Linked DNA regions of Homo sapiens. The protein of the gene in region 1 interacts with the protein of each later gene in a biochemical or structural test. Each region holds a gene or a part of one and is shown in the gene's direction. Other genes may lie near its edges. The genes, in order: RAP1GAP, GNAZ and BRAF.

What was found.
Region 2: the proteins of RAP1GAP (region 1) and GNAZ form a complex in vitro, tested with the Homo sapiens proteins (one study listed by BioGRID).
Region 3: the proteins of RAP1GAP (region 1) and BRAF form a complex in vitro, tested with the Homo sapiens proteins (one study listed by BioGRID).

The regions. Positions count from the first base shown.
Region 1 is NC_000001.11:21,603,243-21,610,401, reverse strand, and holds part of RAP1GAP (rap1 GTPase-activating protein 1), read left to right. Parts: intron 1-126; coding exon 127-282; intron 283-755; coding exon 756-827; intron 828-1,096; exon of another isoform or gene 1,097-1,291; intron 1,292-1,465; coding exon 1,466-1,552; intron 1,553-2,051; coding exon 2,052-2,189; intron 2,190-4,204; coding exon 4,205-4,336; intron 4,337-6,489; coding exon of another isoform or gene 6,490-6,744; intron 6,745-7,159. UniProt on the Homo sapiens protein: GTPase activator for the nuclear Ras-related regulatory protein RAP-1A (KREV-1), converting it to the putatively inactive GDP-bound state.
Region 2 is NC_000022.11:23,094,519-23,101,518, forward strand, and holds part of GNAZ (guanine nucleotide-binding protein G(z) subunit alpha), read left to right. Parts: intron 1-728; 5' UTR 729-1,177; coding exon 1,178-1,900; intron 1,901-4,093; coding exon of another isoform or gene 4,094-4,294; exon of another isoform or gene 4,295-7,000. UniProt on the Homo sapiens protein: Guanine nucleotide-binding proteins (G proteins) are involved as modulators or transducers in various transmembrane signaling systems.
Region 3 is NC_000007.14:140,732,771-140,739,929, reverse strand, and holds part of BRAF (serine/threonine-protein kinase B-raf), read left to right. Parts: coding exon 1-118; intron 119-5,159; coding exon 5,160-5,333; 3' UTR 5,334-7,159. UniProt on the Homo sapiens protein: Protein kinase involved in the transduction of mitogenic signals from the cell membrane to the nucleus. Phosphorylates MAP2K1, and thereby activates the MAP kinase signal transduction pathway. Phosphorylates PFKFB2.

The DNA.
Region 1 (7,159 bases):
TTGGGGAAAGCAAATCCTTAGATGTGCCCTCTGACTACCCCAAACCCTCCTAAACCCCCGTGGGCACCCCTCTCCCCCATGGGCCCCCTCTGGCCAGACCACGAAGGCCCGTGGCTTTGTGCTCAGTTGCAGCGGAAGCGGCACATCGGGAACGACATCGTGGCTGTGGTCTTCCAGGATGAGAACACTCCTTTCGTGCCCGACATGATCGCGTCCAACTTCCTGCATGCCTACGTCGTGGTGCAGGCTGAGGGCGGGGGCCCTGATGGCCCCCTCTACAAGGTGGGCGCTCTTGGAGCCTCCCAGGGGCATCAGCAAGGGCCCTGGCTGCAGCTCTGCCCTCCCTGGGATGCCCCTCTGAGCCTCACTTTTTCCAGCTATAATGGGGGGACCATGGAAGGCTTCAATGGTGCACTGTTCACACCACGCCCCCTGTCGTCCCCAAAGCTCACCCCCTCAGAGAGGACAGTTTCCCTCCTCTGCCTCCTGGCCTGGTATCACTGTCCTCCACCTCCCGTAGCCTCCTCTGCCTTCACCATCCCGATGATTCCTAAGGCCCCTACCCATCTCCACCACTAAAATTCAGGGCAAAAGATAGAGGGCAGAAATCTCTGGAAGAAAGATTCATCCAGCCCACAGTCACTGGGTCTCCCCGACCAAGGGGCAGTCCAGGGAGGCACAGTAGGGGTTTCTGGCTGGGTGGGGCAGAGCAGACCCCAGGCTCCACAGGAACAGACAGCTGCCCTCCCTTCCAGGTCTCTGTCACTGCAAGAGATGATGTGCCCTTCTTTGGACCCCCCCTCCCGGACCCCGCTGTGTTCAGGAAGGTGAGGGGCACCCCCCCAGTCATGGGCAGAGCAGGACAAATGGGTGGGGGCCTGGGGGGTGCATACACATTCTGCCTTATGAGGTCCCAAAGTCTCATTGTATGCCAGGGCAGCTGGGCTCCCCTAACTGCAACCGGGGCCTGGCTTTTCCATTCATCTTGAAAACACCTTTTTTTTTTTTTTCACAAGGTCACAGGATAAACTACACGATTGTTTTACACTTTCCATAGTAGACTGGCCTCTCCTCATTTCTGTTCTCTTTCTGACAGTTCCAGTCTCTTTCTTTCTTCTAAAATGTTTGGGGAGGGGCACACTTCAAGCCTGGGCTTCAGCTCTGTACGTAGCGTGTTCTGCTACCCTAGACTGAAGCAGTAGGTTGAGACCCCAACCCAGACCCTAACATCTGTGGAGTTTGCTCTCCCGAAGGCGTGGGCAGCCATGAAGGGCACTGGGGCCCCTTGAAGGTACCTGGGGAGCTGAGCCCAGGGAGATACCCTTTTGGGAGTGAAGAGGGTGACCCCAGGCCCCAGCAGAGCATGGTTCAGGAGCTGCAGCCTCTGCCTCGTTGGGGTTCCGACCCTTGTTTATGTGTCATCTCAACTTCCCTTCCTTATCTCCTCCACACTGGGAGTTTCCAGGGGCCTGAGTTCCAGGAATTTTTGCTGACAAAGCTGATCAATGCTGAATATGCCTGCTACAAGGCAGAGAAGTTTGCCAAACTGGAGGTGAGGATGGGCTGTGAGGGCTGGGTGACCCTCTTCTCACCTTCCAACCTATAACTTCAGCCCTGTCCCTGGGAAGGGAAAAGCCATGTTCAGACCTTGGCCTTAGCGGGGACACCTGGGGCTGGATGGATTGATGGACGAGTAGGAGGTCGGGGAGAGGAAGCCGGAGGGATACTGAGGAGTTCCCAGGAGATGCTGGGAGGCGGTTAGGCTGACAGGGACACCTTGGGACCTGTCAGGTGGGGGGGTGGACCTGGGGGGTGGGGACATGAAGCCAGATCTTGAAGGGGCTTTGAGGGGCCCTTCATATGAGGGTCCCTGGGGGATGCTTGAGCTGTGGAGTGGCCTGGGGGAAGGCGGTGCAGGAGCCCTCCGCCCTCCCCACTCCCCACTCATTCAGAGAAGGTGGCCCGTGCCTCAGAAGGTGGCCAGGATTTGAACTGTGGGCCGAAGGGCTGATCCTTGGGGTCCCTCCTGACGGCCCGGGCCTGGCCCACAGGAGCGGACGCGGGCCGCCCTCCTGGAGACGCTCTATGAGGAACTACACATCCACAGCCAGTCCATGATGGGCTTGGGCGGCGACGAGGACAAGATGGAGAATGGCAGTGGGGGCGGCGGCTTCTTTGAGTCTTTCAAGGTGAAGGGCCCCAGGTCTAACTGGCCGGGGAGCAGGGACGTGGCTAGGGCGGAATCCCGGGCTGAGGCTGATAGACTGATGGACACGGCGTGGGGGTGGAGTCTGGCAGAAGGGGCGTGGCTGAGGGGGTGGAGTCCCGGACTGGGGGATTGACACAGCATGGGGAGTGCAGCTAGAGGCCGTTCGCATTGGAGTCTGAGAGGGGGCGTGGCTGGGGCGAAGTCCCGGACTGGGGCTGATTGACATGGTGTGGAGGTGTGGCTAGAGGCCGCTCGCCTGCGGGTAGAGTCTGGGATGGGACGTGGCTGGGGGTGGAGTCAGGGGCCGGGGCTAATGGACATGGCGTGGGGGTGTGGCTAGAGGAGGCTCTAGTCTGGGATGAGGGCGGGGCTCGAAGTGGACTTGGGCTTTAGAATGGGCTTACACTTGGGGACATAGTCTGCCTTGGGTAGAGTTTGAAGGAGCAGCATGTAAGGTGGGGCCCTGGCTTGGGGAGGAGTAACTGTTGGAGGTGGGGCCTAGGTGGGGAATTCACCTGGGAATTCTGCTGAAGGGTGGAGGATTCTGGGAGACAGCAAGGGCTGCTGGTACAAAGGCTGCTAGGTCAGCAGGAAGAGAAGAGAGGAAGAGGCTCTGTCTTGACTGAGGGAAAGAAATAGAGTTCTCAGAAGAGGTGTGTGAACCATGATCATTGGAGAGGGACTTGGCCTGTGTGACCTACCCTGCCTGTCCCTGGTTTAGCTTAGCATTAAGAGCACGGACACTTCAAATTTCAGCTCTGTTACTTACCAGCTTGGGCATTCTGTGAGCATCAGTTTCTTTATCTGTTGAGTAGGGTAATGGCAACTTGCCTCATACAGTTATTGTTATCTGTAAAAGAGTTAGGTTAGTGCAATACAAGTTTAAAAGCAAAATGCAAAACCTTGCCTGTCTGCCTCAGCAAATGTTGTCTGAAATGAGAAGTGTGGGGAGTGGAGTAGTTCCTGGACAGGGTCTGGACTCACTCAGGCCACAGGGCCCCAGGTGGTAGCCTTTTTGCCACCGTCTCCTCCACCCACAGGAGGATAACTGCCCATCCTCCAGCTTCCCGGCCGGCTGGTCACACCTCACCCTCAACCCAGGACAGGTCACACAGCTGGAGCTATGGGTTGGAATAAGGGAATTAGCCCGGCTGCCCAGGCCTGCCCAGGAACTGAGGTGAACAGATCGTCTTTGAGAAAGAGGCTTGGGGACTGGAGACAGGACAGGTGGGGTCAATATGGATCTGGGGTGTCTCCTTTGAGGAGGGCTCCGATGGTCCCACATCTGGTAGGTGCTGGACGGTGGACCTAGATTAGGTCAAAGAATTTCTCAGAAGCAGCGGAGTCCAGAGTTGAGGGCATGGGTCCTGGCATGCCGGGCTCACCCCTGCCTCAGTTGGCATGAAATGGGCATGATTGCTAGTCCCCATCTTGCAGGGGGATCCAGTGATAGAGTGATTGTAAAGCGCTGGTCCCATAGCAAGCATTTGGTGTAGATTGGTCTGAAAAAAACAAGGAAAGAGGGTGGGAGGGAAGAAAAGAAAGAAGGCAGGAGAGCTCTAAGAGGCCCTAACAGGAATGAAACTGAGGTGTCAAGAGGGCTCTCTGTGCACACTTTTGGCCATGACCCAGTGTCTTCTGCAGTCCTTACGCAGCCACATGAGGACACTCAGCACAGAGCAGCCTGTGTGTCCCAGAGAGTGAGAGAACTGAAGTGGTGTCCCCAAGGCCACCCGGCAAGTTGGTGGCAGAGCCAATACCTGAGCTACCCTTAGGCCCCGTATGTACCTGCTTCTCATGTGACGCACAGGGAAATTGAGGCCTGGCCCCACCTCCCTCTGTTGCCCTGCTGGCCACATGCCCAGGGGAAGGGATTTCCAGGGCTTACCCAGAGTGGCATTGCTGGGGAGAGACCAGATGCCTGGGCTCCTGGGTTTCCCCAAGGGGACGGCCCTTAGGAATCCTGTGCCTCCTCCACTGCCACCCCCTTCACAGCGGGTCATCCGGAGCCGCAGCCAGTCCATGGATGCCATGGGGCTGAGCAACAAGAAGCCCAACACCGTGTCCACCAGCCACAGCGGGAGCTTCGCGCCCAACAACCCCGACCTGGCCAAGGCGGCTGGAATAGTGAGTGCCCTCCCCCTCCCCAGGCCCCGGCCCCTCCCTGGGGGGCCCTCAGCTCTCCTCTGCCTCCTGAGGCCTGACTCCAACTCTCTCTGTTGCCCTGCTGCCCACATGCCCATCCTAGGCTCTGGATTTGGTCTAGCCACTACTTTCCATGGGAGGGGGGTGAAGTGCCCAGGCCAGGACACTGCGGTGCTGACAGCTTGCAGCCTGCAGCCCCTTCCCAAGCTCCTTGGCCCTCCCCTCCTCCTGGCCCTTTATGCATTGAGGTGTGACTTCCTGCAGGTCAGCCCTGGGACAGCCTCTGTGTCTCATTCCTTATTGAGTATCTATCTGTTTGCTGGGGACTGGGCTGCTGTGTGGGCACCTACTGTCAAGCCTTGGGTTTCTGGGAGCACCTACTGTGTGTCGGGCTGTGGGCACCCACTGTGTGTCAGGCCCTGGGCTGCTGTGTGGACATGCACTCTGTGAGCATCTACTGTGGGCCTGGCCCTGAGTACCTGTGAGCACCCACTGTGTGTCAGGTCCTGGGCTGCTGTGTGGGCATCAACTCTGTGAGCGCCTACTGTGTGCGCAGCCCTGGGCTGCTGTGTGAGAACCTACTGTGTGTCAGAAAATGGACTGCTATGTGAGCACATCGTGTGTGATAAGCCCTAGATGTCAGTGAACACCTACTGTGTGTCAGGAAGTGAGCTGTTGTGTGGGTACTTTCTCTGTGAGCACCTCCTACTGTGTGTCCGCAGCAGCCAGGGCCTCTGTGGTGTGGCTGCCTATTGTGTGTCGGGAATCTGGCTTCTGTGTGAGCATCTCCAGAGGGAGCACCTCCTGTGTGATCACTGACTGTTGTCCAGGTTCTGGGATTCTGCTGCTCACACTCAGGAGTGCTGGGCACATGGATGAATACGGCCTATGGCTGTGGGCCTCACTGCTGTCCACTGCCTAGTGGCCACCCCAGGACACTGCACCCACTGCTGTGCTCCCCACCCATCCATCCAGCCACCCATCCATCCACCCACCCATCCATCCATCCACCCACCCATCCACCCATCTAGCTATCCACCCACCCACCCATCCACCCACCTACCCATCTACCCATCCACCCACCCACCCACTCATCCATCCACCCACCCATCCACCCACCCATCCACCCATCAATCCATCCATCCACCCACCCATCCACCCATCCATCCATCCATCCATCCATCCATCCATCCATCCATCCATCTCTATCCATCCCTCTATCTCCATCCATCCATCCACCCACCCACCGATCCATCCATCCATCCATCCATCCTTTATTGACTGTCTACTGCATGCCAAGCCCTGCGCTCAGTGCTGTGAGGCTATGTCACGTGGCAGGAGGGAATTCCCCGACCTCTGCTGTCCAGCAGTCACCAAGCACACTGTCATGCGAGGAGCAGGCCCAACCTCCCCCAACCCAGTTTTATCAACCACTCCCTTCCTCTCCACCAGAGTGACCCAGCCTCCTGTGGGTGGCCGAGAGGGGCCCCAGGGACAGGACCAGGCCAGCAGCACCCACCATGGCAGTAACCGGACCCATTTCTGTTTTGTTTTTGCACAACTCTCCCTCTCTCTGTGTTTCCTCCTTTCATTCTACTCTCTCTCCTTGTTTTTTTGTTCCCTCCTCCCTTCCCTTTCCCCGTCCTGTGGCCTCTCTGCCCTTTGGCTCTCTGTTTCTCCTTCCTTCTTGCACCTGTCTTTTTTGCTCCCTCTCCTCCTTCCCTTCTCCGCTCTTCTCACCCTCGCTTTTTCCTTTCGGCCTTCCCCTGGCTTCCTTCTCTGTCTCTGACCCTCCCTGGGCCTGTGTCTGTGTCCTTGCGTCCCTGTCTCTCTGGATTTCCCTCTGTGCCCATCTGGTGTGCCCTCGCTGGCTCACGCGTGTCCCTGTCTCCGGGTAACTGTCTGTCCATCTCTCCCCCGTCTCCCTTGTCCTCTGTCTCTCCTTGTGCTTCTCGCCTTCCTTTCCCCGGCCCTATCTCTCCCATTGCCTCCTGCACCGTTCTCTTCCTTTTTCTGTCTGTCTTCCTCCTTTCCCTGCCTCTCCTCCTCTCTGTGTCTCCCTCCCACCATCTCTCTTGCTCTCTGACTCTCTCTCTGTCTCTCTCTCTCTGCCCCCGCCCTCTGCTGCTTGCCAGTCATTGCTTATTCCTGGGAAAAGTGCGAGTAGATTCGGACGCCGGGGCAGTGCCATAGGCATAGGAACCGTGGAAGAGGTTGTCGTCCGCGGGGCCGCCGGCTCTGGAGGCTGCCTGCACGCGCTGTTCTCTGCTCGCTCTCAGGACGGAGGCCATATTGGGGACGTTGCCCCTCTGCCCCCGGGACAGGCCCCAGGGCGTGCGGGATGGAGTGGCGGCAGCTCCGATGGCACTCAGCACCTGCTTTGGGGCCTGGTACCTGTGCCAGAGCCAGTGCCCCTCACCAGGGGCTTCTGGCCCTGCCTTGGCCCCTGGGACCCTGGCCCAGTCCCTGCCAGGATCCGGTACCCAAAGGCCCTACACCCAGCCGCACGTCCCCCAATATCGCCGGTCTGCATGGAGCGCCATCCCTCTCCTCTGCCCTGACTCCTCCTCCCCGCCACGAAGTGACCTGGGGTCCTACCCCTTCCTGCCTCCAGAGAAGCTGGGGGCGGGCTTCTGGGGCCTGGGGCATCCCAGCACAGTGTGTGGGAAGCTGGGGGAGTCTTCCAGCTGCTGGGCCAGAACCTCCCCCAGCCAATTTGGAGGTTCCGGGGAGGGGCCCTAGCTGGCACGGGGTGGGACTTGGGTTGCTACACTGCCCTCTGACCACTGCCCTTAGGCTGCAGAT
Region 2 (7,000 bases), on another chromosome or scaffold:
TGGATTTCCCCGCAGCACCACGTGCAGCCCCCAGCTCCTTGGTCTCAGCCCAAGCCCCCCTCTACCTCCTTCTGCAGGAGTGAGGCAGCCCCTGCCCACTGTGCTTAGGCACCTCACGGTGCTCCCACAGCCTGAAGCCTCCACCTTGCTCTGGTCCCTGCCTATCTGCTGGCTCCTGGGCTGGCCCATCAGAGTGCCCTCAAGGGAAAGCAGGGGCCAGGTCTCCCTCCTGGTGCTTTTCCTCCCTGTGATCAGAAGTGACCCAGCTCCTGCGGGGGTAATGAGAGTCAGGGAGGCGCTCAGTTATCCCAGGGCTGGGCCGAGGCCTGGCCACCCGTGTAAAACAGGGCAAGGCTGAGCTCTATCAGTGCTGTCTGGGAGAAGGGCCCCAGGGGGCATCACAACAGGGTGACCTTATTGAATCCTAACTGGATGCGGTAGAAGTGAGTCCAGCATGGGGGCTGGGTGGGCAGAGGCCTCGCACACACCCTCCTCTCCCTCATGCACCTGGCTTCAGGTGGACTGTCCAGGCAACAGCAGACATATGTGTTACACCATGGTGTGGGCCCTACAGCGCCCCATGGAGGAGAGGGGGTTGGATGGATTGTTGCCGGCTCATTTTCCAAGGCCAGTCTCTGCTGCTTTGCTTTCAGAAGAGCTCCCTTTCACTGTCCAGCCTGAGGTGGGGCTGCGGGGAGGAGGCTCACGCTTTTCTCTGTGTTTGGCAGGTGAAGGGCTGGATGCACAGTGGGAGCCGGAGGCGGGGGGCTGCAGGGAGCACACCAGCGACCGGCCCTCCAACCCTCCAGCCACTCAGCAACATCGCCACAGCAACCAGCAACCAGACGGCAGCAGCCGAGGCAAACACAAGCGGACGGCTTCCCACCGTCGCCGAGGACAGGGAATGACTACGGCAAATCAGGCCACTTTGCCAACTAGGGAGGTGGAGTGTCACTAGTGGGGAGGGGCGGCCACCGCCCGCTGCACAGAGCGCCATGCCGGCTGGAGAAGAGGCGCTGGGGCAGGGGCTGCAGTGTGGCTCGGCCTCACCCCCCTGCTGGCACTGAGTGCCTCCAGGGCAGCTGGGCTCTTGTCTGCCTGGTCTCAGTGTCCCCTGTGGCAAGAGGGAGAGGTGCCCCATCCCGTGCTCCTTGTCTGGGCCCGCTGCTGCCAGACCATGGGATGTCGGCAAAGCTCAGAGGAAAAAGAAGCAGCCCGGCGGTCCCGGAGAATTGACCGCCACCTGCGCTCAGAGAGCCAGCGGCAACGCCGCGAAATCAAGCTGCTCCTGCTGGGCACCAGCAACTCAGGCAAGAGCACCATCGTCAAACAGATGAAGATCATCCACAGCGGCGGCTTCAACCTGGAGGCCTGCAAGGAGTACAAGCCCCTCATCATCTACAATGCCATCGACTCGCTGACCCGCATCATCCGGGCCCTGGCCGCCCTCAGGATCGACTTCCACAACCCCGACCGCGCCTACGACGCTGTGCAGCTCTTTGCGCTGACGGGCCCCGCTGAGAGCAAGGGCGAGATCACACCCGAGCTGCTGGGTGTCATGCGACGGCTCTGGGCCGACCCAGGGGCACAGGCCTGCTTCAGCCGCTCCAGCGAGTACCACCTGGAGGACAACGCGGCCTACTACCTGAACGACCTGGAGCGCATCGCCGCAGCTGACTATATCCCCACTGTCGAGGACATCCTGCGCTCCCGGGACATGACCACGGGCATTGTGGAGAACAAGTTCACCTTCAAGGAGCTCACCTTCAAGATGGTGGACGTGGGGGGGCAGAGGTCAGAGCGCAAAAAGTGGATCCACTGCTTCGAGGGCGTCACAGCCATCATCTTCTGTGTGGAGCTCAGCGGCTACGACCTGAAACTCTACGAGGATAACCAGACAGTAAGTGGGGCCGGGGGTTTTCCTCTGCTTGTTCCTGCTGTCGTGGGTTCCTGGAAGCAAGAGGACTCGTGAGGTCCAGGACAGTCTGCAGCCAGAAAGGGAACCAGGCGCAGGCCTGGCCCTGCTGCACGATAACTGAGGCAGCTCCAGCAAGGTGGGGGCAGAGGGAACAGGGTGTGGAGTGCAGGTGTCATGTCCCATGCCTGAAGTACTCAGGGTGTGGAGGCCACAGGGCAAGAGAGTGTGAGGCTCCGCCGGGCATCCATGATCAATCCATGTGATAGTTTGGCAAATCCATGAAGCTCCTGCCAGCACCAGTCTCCTACCAGCATATAGGTCCAGGAACAGCAGCCACCCCTGCAACCCCATCTTGAGTCTGCAAATCTGGCAGAGATGGGGTTAAGAGCTGTTTAGAAGGGATAATCCCAGGTCCTGGTGGAAAGGGGACGACGTAAAAGCAGGTGTTGGGATTCTTTCACAGTGGCATGGGCGCAGCCCGAGGGAGACCTGGACCCAGTGTGAAGCGGTGGGGGCTTGAGAGTGGAGTTGCTGGAGAGGGTGGGGAGCCGGGTGAAGCAGCAGGGCAGTGTGCTGAGGCCCAGCCAGGACAGAAGGTCTAGCACACGAAGGGGGCCACAGCCAGGAGTGGCAGCGGTGGAGGCCGTGGCAGGCAAGGGAGGGGCTGTCTTGCCCAGCAGGATTCCCTGAGCACAGATTTCAAGTCTGCCCTTAAGAGAGAGGCCTTTGACCCTGGGGATGGGGGAGTGGGGGCAAACAAGGAGTCACGAAGTTGTGGGTACCCTGGGGCTAGGGGAGGGTGATGCTGGGAGACAAGGGCTCAGCCTCTCCACTTGGGAGCACTGGCCTCCGAGGTCACTCCTTGCTTCACCCAGTCCTAAGGCAAGCTTTATTCTTTAGGTTCAGCGGAGAGCAACAATGGTTCTAGCTTTGGACCTGTGCCCCAGCCAGGGAACCTGGACAGCTCTAGGCAGTGGCCATGGTGCTAGGAGCCTGAGTGTTCTGAGAGAGAGGATCTTTGGCTTTCCTCAGGCAGCTGGGGAGGCGGGCTTGCCTCCCTCCCCTCCTCGCATCAGGGGTCTCCCTGGAACTGTGCCTAGGTGTTGATGGTGTGCCTGGGGGAAACGAATGACGGACGGGCAGGCAGGTGTGTACGCAGGCGGCTGCGTCCACCCTGTTCCCAGTGTGTATCTGTGTGCTCTCCAGGGTTCTGGCCCCTTACCCTGTGGTTGCCACAAGTTCAGCCCCATGTGTGGTTCTGGGCAGAGGGGACATCTCAGCAGATGAGTGAGGTCAGGCTCCCTTGATGAGGCATGGCCGTGGGCAGAGCGCTTGGGGCTGAGAAGCTGCAAGGCAAAGTGAGGTGCTCAGGCCAGACCCTTGGGACAGTGCCATGGTGGGTCTGCCAGTCACACGGGCTTGCGCCACTGGCCTCACCCATCACCACAGTGGCAGGCGTGGCAAATTCCCCGGGCACCAGGCCTGGCTCCCAGTTGCATCCTTTGACAGGCCGTGCCCACAGGTGTGCTGGACACAGGAGGCAGGATACCTGGGTCCTGAGTCAGTCCAGTTTTTCATGGAGGGCTTTGGCTGTCATGTTTGCTTTCTGAACTTGTCAGTGAGGAGATGACCCAGGTGTCTTCACAGATGGGCCCAAGGCTAGGCCTTTGCCTGCCTGCAGCCCTCTTGGCTCTTACTGGCCTGTGCCTGCCACCTTGCTGCCTCTCTCTCCTCTCCTTCTGCTCTAGCCGTGGTCAGCTTGTTTTGCTCCAGCAGTACTGCTCTGTCCAGCCTTAAGCTTGTAATGATCCTGATCCCTGCCTCTCGTACCCCTGCCCTTATCCTCCAGGTCTCATCCCAAGTGGCGCCTCCTGGGAGGCCTTTTCTGACCTAGCCCGGCACCTGCTTACTCCTCCATCTAGTGATGTGTGAGTGAGCTCCTCGGGGCAGGCCCTAGATGGGCTGGGTGGCCCCTGTGGGGCCTCACATCTCTAGCTTTCCCTCTCCCAGGCCTGTCCCTGGGGAGAGCCATGGTGGGCAGCCATGGGCAGGGACAGCAGCCACTGGCCTGGTCTCAGGGATCCCTGTGAGGTTCCAGGCATTCAAGGCACTTTCTAAAGGGAGGGGCTGGCAGCCAGGCTGGCACACCCACCACCATCACCCTGGTTTCTGCAGGCCTGGGGAAGTGGTTGTTCACCAGAAAAGGAAATTCTTGATGAGAAACCCAAGCGAGGCTGGAAATTCACTGGATTCCAAATGATTCTGACCTTTCATGCTCTACCAGTAATATCTGGAGATGGAAAACAAACAGGCTGCAGAGGAAAGACAATCCCCTCCCGCGATTCCTCCCGCAGGCTGGGCTGGCCCCGGAGGTGAGCTGGCCCCCAGAGTGGTGCCGGCAGTGAGGACAGCCCGTCTCCAGCCGGGCCAGGGCCAGAGCCAGTGCTGGCACGGGCTGGCACAGGGCTGCCACTCTGCTCTCTCCTTTTGGAACGTGCTGAACTGTCCTCCCTGGGCCCTGTCAAAGGCAAGGCAGCCAAGAACAGGCCATGCTCGTTTTCACAAAAGCCGAATGAACCTTGGGGCCCAGTGCCAGGGCTCTGGACACGGCTCCTCCATAGCCCTCCTTCCGTGCTCAGCTTCCAAGGCCTCATCTTCCCTGATGCTGGCAGTGCCTCCCCACCCCCACGCCTGGCGAAGGAGCCACAGCCCCCCGGCCCACCCGCTGGCTTCTGCGTCAGCACGTTGCCAAGGAGAACGTCAGTGTCTCTGGGCTCCCGGGTGTGAGGGCTGCAGTGAGTGCAGGGCAGCACCTCAGAGCAGGGAAGGCAGATTTCCGGGTGTCTGTGGAGCATGGCAGCGAGCCACATGGGGAGCCACGCCCCTCCATGGCCACGGTTCCCACCCTCGTCCGAAGGAATTGGCAGTCCCTTGCCCTGACTAGGGCCAAGTCCTGCAGGTGTGTCAGGCACCCCAGTGCCCCCAAGCCCAACACCCAGCTGGGGCTTCCTCAGGCAGCACAGGAGGCCTGAACACAGCCCAGCAACACAAGGGGGTTTTTCTGGCGCACCTGTCCCCTGAATGATCCTGTGGGGCAGCAGCGCCTGTTATTTTTGTCACAGATCGAGGCACTGAGGCTCAGGCACACAGCTGGCGCTGGCGGGCCCCCAGCCCTCAAGTCCACAAGGACAGCTCCTGAGAGGCCATGTGTCACAGGACCCACCACGGGCCTCCCACTTAGCCAGAGCCATGGCAGAGGCTCTGCCCCTCGTCTTTAGTACATTCACACAAGGGTCAGTCAGCAAAGACAGTCACTCTGCTGCCCTAGGAGGGAAAGGCAAAGTGGAGAAGCTGGCACCTACCAGCCCACACTGAGGGACAGACACAGGTGGCTGTGACCAGCAGAGCCTGGGTCTTCACTCGGCCCCACTGGAGGCACCTGAGGGGGTAGGTGGGCACTTGTTGCCCAACCTCTGCCCTTGCGGATCAGCTAATGGACTCTGCTGGCCACCAAATGGTGTGGGATCCTTCAGAAGGCAAGATTAAAAGGTCTAGTTGTAAAGCATCAAATGTTCTCATGTGGAAACCCACAGGGAGCTCACTGCCCATTTCCCGACGGAGCTGTCAGCATTCCCAGCCCTGTGGCGGGTCTGTTTTGCACCTGTGATGGACCTGCTGTGCAGGCTCAAGGCTCAGGCTGGGGCCAAGTATGAGGGTGAGCACAACTCTCCCAGCAGCACAGGGAACTGGGGGACAAGGAGGAGGCAGTCACACCAGCCCAGCTACAGCTTCATTTCCACAAAGCCTCTGCTACCAGGGATACCTGCCCTGTCTTTCTAGAGCTGGCAGGCAGCAGTTCCCAGCAGTGTCCCCATTGTGCTTTCATCTAGGACCCACAGTAGTCACTTGGGCCCCACAGGCAGGCTGGGTCACAGCAGGGTTCACCGTGGGAGGCCTGGTGTCTCTGCCACTTATCTGAGAGACAGCTGGTCAACATGTTATCAGTGAGGGTATCCAGGGGACGGGGGACATAAGAACATGCCTTTTGTGGGGCAAGTTCTGCAGGTGGCAAGTGCTTGAGCAGCCAGCCTCCAGGCAGGTGGTCTATGCCTGGCCCTGGATAGTGGTCCCTTGTCCTGGGGCCATTGGCTTCCTGAGGAACCCCTCCCCACTCCAGGGCAGGTCAGCAGCCTCAGCACACCACGAGGGCAGGTCCACACCCACCCGGCACAGCCTGTGCTCTGAGCAGAGGGCCTGGCACACAGTGGGTGCTCTGCAGACTTTGTGGAGCGGGCGGGAGGCGGTAGGCTTGGGAAGAGCTGGAGCTCCAGAGCCCTGGCTTCTGGGTGCAGAGCAGCTGGGACACTCAGCCCTTCCCAAGGAGACCCTATGGGTGCTCGTCCATAACAGGAGTGTATGCAGTACCCTGAGGAGGGGCTGCCCAAGGCCGTCCTGTGAACACAGCGTGTTCCTGCCACCCTAGCGCTGTGGTTTATCATTTAGCCCAAAAAGGGTGCTTGTTTTAGTGCTTTTAAAATGGAGTTTAAACATTTGTGCCATAAAATGGCGTGTTGTGGGTGAAACAAGGTGTTTCCAGTAAGACAGGCTTATACCTATTGATGACAGAGCTGGTTATATTTGCCCAAGGAGGGAATTACAAATGGGCAATAGCCAGACACAGATGATACCCTCTCCCCAGCATACCAGGGCTTAGATTGAGAAGGGACCTTATATATCCTTTAGTGTTCCTAACCAGCCGGCTTTGCAGATGAGGAAACTGAGCCTCAGAGAGGTTCCTTCACATACCGCAGGGCTGAGACTCTGGCTCTCAGGGAGGGTCCTGGCACTGGCCCCTGGGAATTCCAGTGGCCCCCCTCTTCACCATACTGGTCCCACATCCTGTGGGTGCTGGGGTTCTCCAGCAAGGGCCTTGGGGGTATAGACTGGGTTCCACCCTTGGAGCTGCTGTGTAGCCAGCCTTCCCTCAGGAGAGTGGAGGACAGTGACACCTGGGCTTGGGAGAGGTGAGTGGCTGTGAAGGTTGACACTCCCCTCGTCCCCTTGTCTCCTGGCCTAGTCAGT
Region 3 (7,159 bases), on another chromosome or scaffold:
ACGAGGATACCTGTCTCCAGATCTCAGTAAGGTACGGAGTAACTGTCCAAAAGCCATGAAGAGATTAATGGCAGAGTGCCTCAAAAAGAAAAGAGATGAGAGACCACTCTTTCCCCAAGTAAGTAAAAGCTTCATGCTATCCAAAAGAACAGACTAACATTCATAGACAGATTTCTGAGCACTTTTTTGGGCACACAGTGTGTATTTCATGAGTTTGGATTCTATGTGCAGACTCCAGACAAGAAAACACATTAAGATGGCTTCATGAGGGTTGAGCAGTGGCACACCTAGAAATTTTGGGTCCTAATACAAAATATTCAGAAAGACTTTGCATTTGTCCATCAGTTCTCAGACTTCTCAGTCTTTGAACTCTTTTACACATTTAAAAATTATCGAAGACCCCCCCCCCCACAAAGAGCTTTTGTTTATATAAGTTTTAATTCCTTATTAGAAATTAAAACTATTTTTTAAAATATTAATGAATTAAACATAGTAAACCAATATGTTAAATAATATTTAGAAAAAAACAGTTCTATTATCTAAGAGAAAAAAATTAGTGAGGAGTTGTATTGTTTTACTTTTTTTGCAAATCCCTTTGCAAAAAGAAGACAGCTGGATTCTCCGCTTTTGCACTCACATTGCAATATCTCACATCATGTCACCCCTAAAAACTCTACTTAACGCTTGTAAAATAATGACAGTAAAAAAGGCAAATGATATCTTATTGTTATTACAAAAATAGTTTTGACCTCGTGGATCCCCTGGTGGTCCACGGACCACATTTTGTGAACCACTGCTTTATTTCTTCTTGGTGGTAAACAGATTCAAGCTTTCCTTTAATACTGGGTCTTTTTGAGGGGCATTTCTGCCTGATGCAGAAAAAGGAAAAGGCAGTAAGGCATTTGTCAGCTCAGCCTGCCTTTACCTAATTCTTGATAACTCACTGCTTTTTTTTTTTTTTTTCCATATTGGAAGGATAAAGCCTTAAGTTAACAAATTTCAAAAAGAACTGTAACTAAGGCCAGGTGTCGTGGCTTACAAATCTCAACACTTTGGGAGGCCAAGGCAGGCAGATCAGTTGAGGTCAGGAGTTCGAGACCAGCCTGGCCAACATGGTGAAAACCGTCTCTACTAAAAATACAAAAATTAGCTGGGCATAGTGGCAGGAGCCTGTAATCCCAGCCACTCAGGAGGCTGAGACATGAGAATCGCTTGAACCCAGGAGGTGGAGATTGTAATGAGCTGAGATGACACCACTGCATTCCAGCCAGGGCAACAGAATGAGACTCTGTTTAAAACAAAACAAAACAAAAATATCTAAATACCTCAACTAGCTTACAGAGTTTAGCTGTAGTAGATATTATAATATAAATGCAATGTTTTCTGATACTTAGGGAGCTCCTGATAGCACTGGATAAATATGCCTTGATGAATCAGTACAGTTTCAAGTGGGAAGTGCTATTTCCCATAGTAACCCTGCTACCATAATTACTGGAGTGTTCATGTATGAACTCTTAGGCCTTTGAATGCCCAGTCCTAGCTGAGTAACTCAGACAGAAGTCAATGTTACAGGAATTAGATTCACTCATCCTTTATTTTTAAATCTAAAAAATGTTATTCTTCTCTAAAGAATGAAAGAAGATAAAATTGATGGTTTTAACAAGTCTGTCAGGGTGTTGCCTAAGAAAAGAAAGGGAAAGCTAAGTGGTTGGCTGGGTAGATATAAGTTTCATTTATCAGGTTTCAAAGTTACTGTTCCTTTGAGGAAGAGTTTTTATTTTTTCTTTTTATTTTTTTATTTGTTTCTCTAAGTCAGGAAACCTCTGGGTTGAGACTGTCCTGGTGAGAGACAAGTGCTGCTGAGCAGCTTCAGCATGACCCTGTCCCATGTTCTCTTTTCACGTCATGGTGCTCGGGTTCTTACTTAGAATGTTTATTGACATTAATAATGCAAAGTACATCCTTAGGCCCACTTTTTAAATGATATTAAAAGGGGCAAAATGCTTAGCTCCATACTTCTAAATATAACATTTCATTAATTACATGGTTTCAAAAACTGAAGTGCATATGTGAACTTTCCAGATTATTGGAGGCTATCCCTTTAAAGTGTTATTTTGAAATTTTTGTTACAGGATATCTTTTCACACCATACTGTTATATGCCACATAAATTTTAGATGGCTGAAGATCTATATGTTTTATAAAATATGAAATCATTTTTATAGTTTTGAGGTAGGAAAGGCTTTCTTAATAGACAAAATTCAGAAGGAAAAAATTAGCAGATGTGAGTACATTAAAAATTTTTAAACTTCTATATAGAAAAATAACATTGAAAGATAAAAAGAATAATTGTAGCATATATAACAAAAAGTAAATGTTTATAATATACAAAGGACTCCTCCAAATCAATAAGTAACAAACAATAGAAAATGGGCAAAGGGAATATGAACAGGTGATTCACATAATAAATACAAATGGTGAATGAACTTAGGAAAAGGTGTAAATATTTCCATGGCAGTCAGTAAAATGCAAAGACACAACAGTGAAATATATTTTAATTTCGCCTCTCAGGTTGGTAATATCCAGCACTGGGAACAATGTTGGGAAGTGAGGAGGAGCATTCTATGTAAAATTTTAAAGGTTTGGTGGAAGGCAGCATTTTGGAAGACCTTGGTAGAATCCATAAATTCAAAATACTTCTAAAAATCTGTGCTATGTAACCTATTTCATAAGTATTCAGATATATATAAGAATGTTTACTATAATAAGAAAAAGACATTAAGATTAAGTTAGTTTTGTATTGATGACATGGATATTGGTGAGAGAAAAAGAAAACAAGACAGAAAACAAAATGTAGTATGATACCTCATTTTTTTTTTTTATAGGCTGGGCCTGTTCTGTTGCCCAGGCTGGAGTGCAGTAATATGATCATAGCCCACTGCAGCCTCAAACTCCTGGGCTCAAGCGATCCTCTCACCTCAGCCTCCTAAGTAGCTGGGATTGCAGGTGCCTATCACCACACCCAGCTAATTTCTTGTGGTGGTGGTGGTGGTGGTTGTAGAGATAGATTCTCACTATGTTGCCCTGGCTGGTCTTGAACTCCTGGCCTCAAGCGATCCTCTCGCCTCAGCCTCCCAAAGTGCTGGGATTACAGGCGTGAGCCCCAGTGCCCAGCCTGATAACCACTTTAAAAGGTTAAACAGAGGCCAGGCACGGTGGCTCACGCCTGTAATCCCAGCACTTTGGGAGGCCGAGGCAGGCGGATCACCTGAGGTTGGGAGTTCGAAACCAGCCTGACCAACATGGAGAAACTCTGACTCTACTAAGAATACAAAATTAGCCAGGCGTGGTGGCACATGCCTGTAATCCCAGCTACTCGGGAGGCTGAGGCAGGAAAATCATTTGAACCCAGGAGGCGGAGGTTGCGGTGAGCCGAGATCGCACCATTGCACTCCAGCCTGGGCAACAAGAGTGAAATTCCATCTCCAAAAAAAAAAAGTGGTGTTCAGGTGGGCCTTGTTTTCATGTATGTATTTTTATACATAAAAAAAGGTACTGAAGAGGCCAGGCGCAGTGACTCACACCTGTAATCCCAGCACTTTGGGAGGCCAAGGTGGGTGGATCAGTTGAGGTTAGGAGTTCGAGACCAGCCTGGGCAAAATGGTGATACCCGTCTCTACTAAAAATACAAAATTATCCGGGCGTGGTGGCACACGCCTGTGATCCCAGCTACTCGGGAGGCTGAGGCAGGAGAATCGCTTGAACCTGGGAGGCGGAGGTTGCAGTGAGCTGAGATCGCGCCACTGCACTCCAGCCTGGACAATAGAGTGAGACTCCATCTCAAAAAAAAAAAAAAAAGGTACAGAAGAAAGTATAGACTCTAACAGTGGTTATCCCTGGAGAGCAGGATTTGAGAGCCTTATACTCTTTATACATTTCTATAGTATTTTAATTTTTATTTGCATGTTATACTTGGAATTTACAATTTTTTGCAACTGCTTACTTCTTTGTCTTATACTAATCATCATAAAGATTACTTTTTAAAAAAAATTTAACTTTTAAAAACAATTTTCAGCCAGGCATGGTGGCTCATGTCTGTAATCCCAGCCCTTTGGGAGGCCGAGGCAGGCAGATCACCTGAGGTCAGGAGTTTGAGACCAGCCTGGCCAACGTGGTGAAACCCTGTCTCTGCTAAAAATACAAAAATTTAGCTGGGCATGGTGGTGCGCTCCTGTAATCCCAGCTACTCAGGAGGCTGAGGCAGGAGAATCGCTTGAACCCAGGAGGGGGAGGTTGCAGTGAGCTGAGATTGTGCCACTGCACTCCAGCCTGGTTGACAACAGCGAGACTCCGTTTCAAAAAAAAAAAAAAATTGGTATCTCAGGACAATAACAAAAGTAATAATAATAGCTGCTAAGGTTTTATTGAGTGCTTATTATAGGCCAGGCATTATGCCAAGCCCTTTAAACATGTTTCATGATTATGAACATGCATTATCATGCTGTATGCCTTCAAGGATTATAACCTGTTTCTTTGTGCCTTAAAATTGTGAATTTCTGCATTTTATATATTGGGGTCTATTTGTCGAGTTCTCCTATCTTTGCTCTTGGGTTGTCCCCTGTCACTTCTCATGTGCTACTAGCACTCTGGGTCTGTGAGGTTCTGCTTTCAATTAGGTGTATGTAAAACATTTCCCATGGCTAGGTTTCTTTAAAGGGCAAGTAGCTGTGATAATTCTGTTTAGAGATAGTCATAAAGTGCTTTACTTATTTATACTCCATCTTCTTCCCAAAAGAGACTTGTGGTCTATAACAAAAAGGTATAAAATTGGTTTTAAATTTCTATTATTTACTGTTTCAAGACTAACAAATGATCTAAAATATAAATAAAAGCTGACTAAGAATTACTCTCCCCATTTAATTTACAGAGAGAGTTTCTTCTTAAGAAAAAATACCAATTATTTACAAATATTTTCCCAAGCATTTATGACAATGCTGAAAACAATGTAAGATTTCAGGTGCTTTCTTGTAAAGTGTGATGGGACTCTTAAAGATTTATACCACCCAGATTTTCATTCTTCTTTCTGTTTTTTCTTTTTCTTTCTTTCTTTTTTTTTCTTTTTTCTTTTTTTTTCTTTTTTTTTTCTTTTTTTTTTTGTAGATTCTCGCCTCTATTGAGCTGCTGGCCCGCTCATTGCCAAAAATTCACCGCAGTGCATCAGAACCCTCCTTGAATCGGGCTGGTTTCCAAACAGAGGATTTTAGTCTATATGCTTGTGCTTCTCCAAAAACACCCATCCAGGCAGGGGGATATGGTGCGTTTCCTGTCCACTGAAACAAATGAGTGAGAGAGTTCAGGAGAGTAGCAACAAAAGGAAAATAAATGAACATATGTTTGCTTATATGTTAAATTGAATAAAATACTCTCTTTTTTTTTAAGGTGAACCAAAGAACACTTGTGTGGTTAAAGACTAGATATAATTTTTCCCCAAACTAAAATTTATACTTAACATTGGATTTTTAACATCCAAGGGTTAAAATACATAGACATTGCTAAAAATTGGCAGAGCCTCTTCTAGAGGCTTTACTTTCTGTTCCGGGTTTGTATCATTCACTTGGTTATTTTAAGTAGTAAACTTCAGTTTCTCATGCAACTTTTGTTGCCAGCTATCACATGTCCACTAGGGACTCCAGAAGAAGACCCTACCTATGCCTGTGTTTGCAGGTGAGAAGTTGGCAGTCGGTTAGCCTGGGTTAGATAAGGCAAACTGAACAGATCTAATTTAGGAAGTCAGTAGAATTTAATAATTCTATTATTATTCTTAATAATTTTTCTATAACTATTTCTTTTTATAACAATTTGGAAAATGTGGATGTCTTTTATTTCCTTGAAGCAATAAACTAAGTTTCTTTTTATAAATTTTGAGTGCAGGTGACCAAAAATATTGCTGAGGAGTGGCACGTTTGACATGAGTAAAATGTCTTAACTTCGGATTTTTAGCGGGAAAATGTTATAAATTGGAGTTTCTTTTAAATAGCTTTTTTTAAAATACATTAAGGATGTCTCGCTCATGTAGAAGTCAAATTTTGTTGCAAACGCATTGCTCCCTTCACACCCAATCTCTCCCCTGCAAAAAATCTTCACAGAATTCTGTGAGAACTTTTAGGTGTGTTTTTCTTTGAGATACCTCTGGTTGCCAAACACCAGGTAATAGATTTTTTAAAGTTGTTATTAGATTATTCTTACCTCTCATGATGCATATTTTAGCAATCACCTTATCATTGTGTCTCATGTTCTGTCCTCCTTATATTCTTTGCCCAGCAAGATTCTACTTATGATGAATGAATGCTCTTCTCCTTTTTTCATTCAATGGTATGAAGTATTTGTTAGGGTTCTTTAGTACTTACACTTTGTTGTGTAGAAAATGACTGTAATGTGGTGGTCAGTGTATTCTTACTGTGATTCAGAGGGAATCAAAAGTAGAAAGCAACAGCACGTGGTCCTATCAAAGATTTGGCCATCTCTGCTTCACTGTCAGCCTCTTAACTATATCTTCACTTACTCAATTTGGTTTTGTCATGATTTTTAAATGTAGCCAATAGATCAAGGTTCTTCCAGTAAACACATATCTGCATAAATGCCTCCTTGAAGTCAATAAAGAAGGAAATTGAGAAGACTTTAAATTAATGATAATTTAGTTTTTAAGTACCCACAAATAAATTTTTGAAACATTTTCTTTATTTGAATACTTAGATGTCATCCAGGAAAATCACTCAATAATAATTACGGCAAATCTTTAACCCCTCATTTGGGTAGCTTAAGATAAGTAATGCCATTATGAATCAGAATTGATTCATGACTTTAGTTAAGAAAATGAAAAGGAACATTTCACGTATTTTTAAAAATGATACTAAGGAATAAAGAAGTACAACTATTGGAAAATATCTAAGTATATGATTTTTAAATCCTCCAGTGGCATTAAATATATGATTATTAGTAATTGTTAGATAGGGTTTTATTCATTCACAAATAGAAGACTAGCAAGCATGTAACTAACAAAGTTTTTACAAAATTGACTTTGTGGAATGCTCCAAATGTTTGGCCATTTTGAGGCACAAGGTCAGGGGTCTCTTTATTGATAGAGCTCCTTCTATAATTTC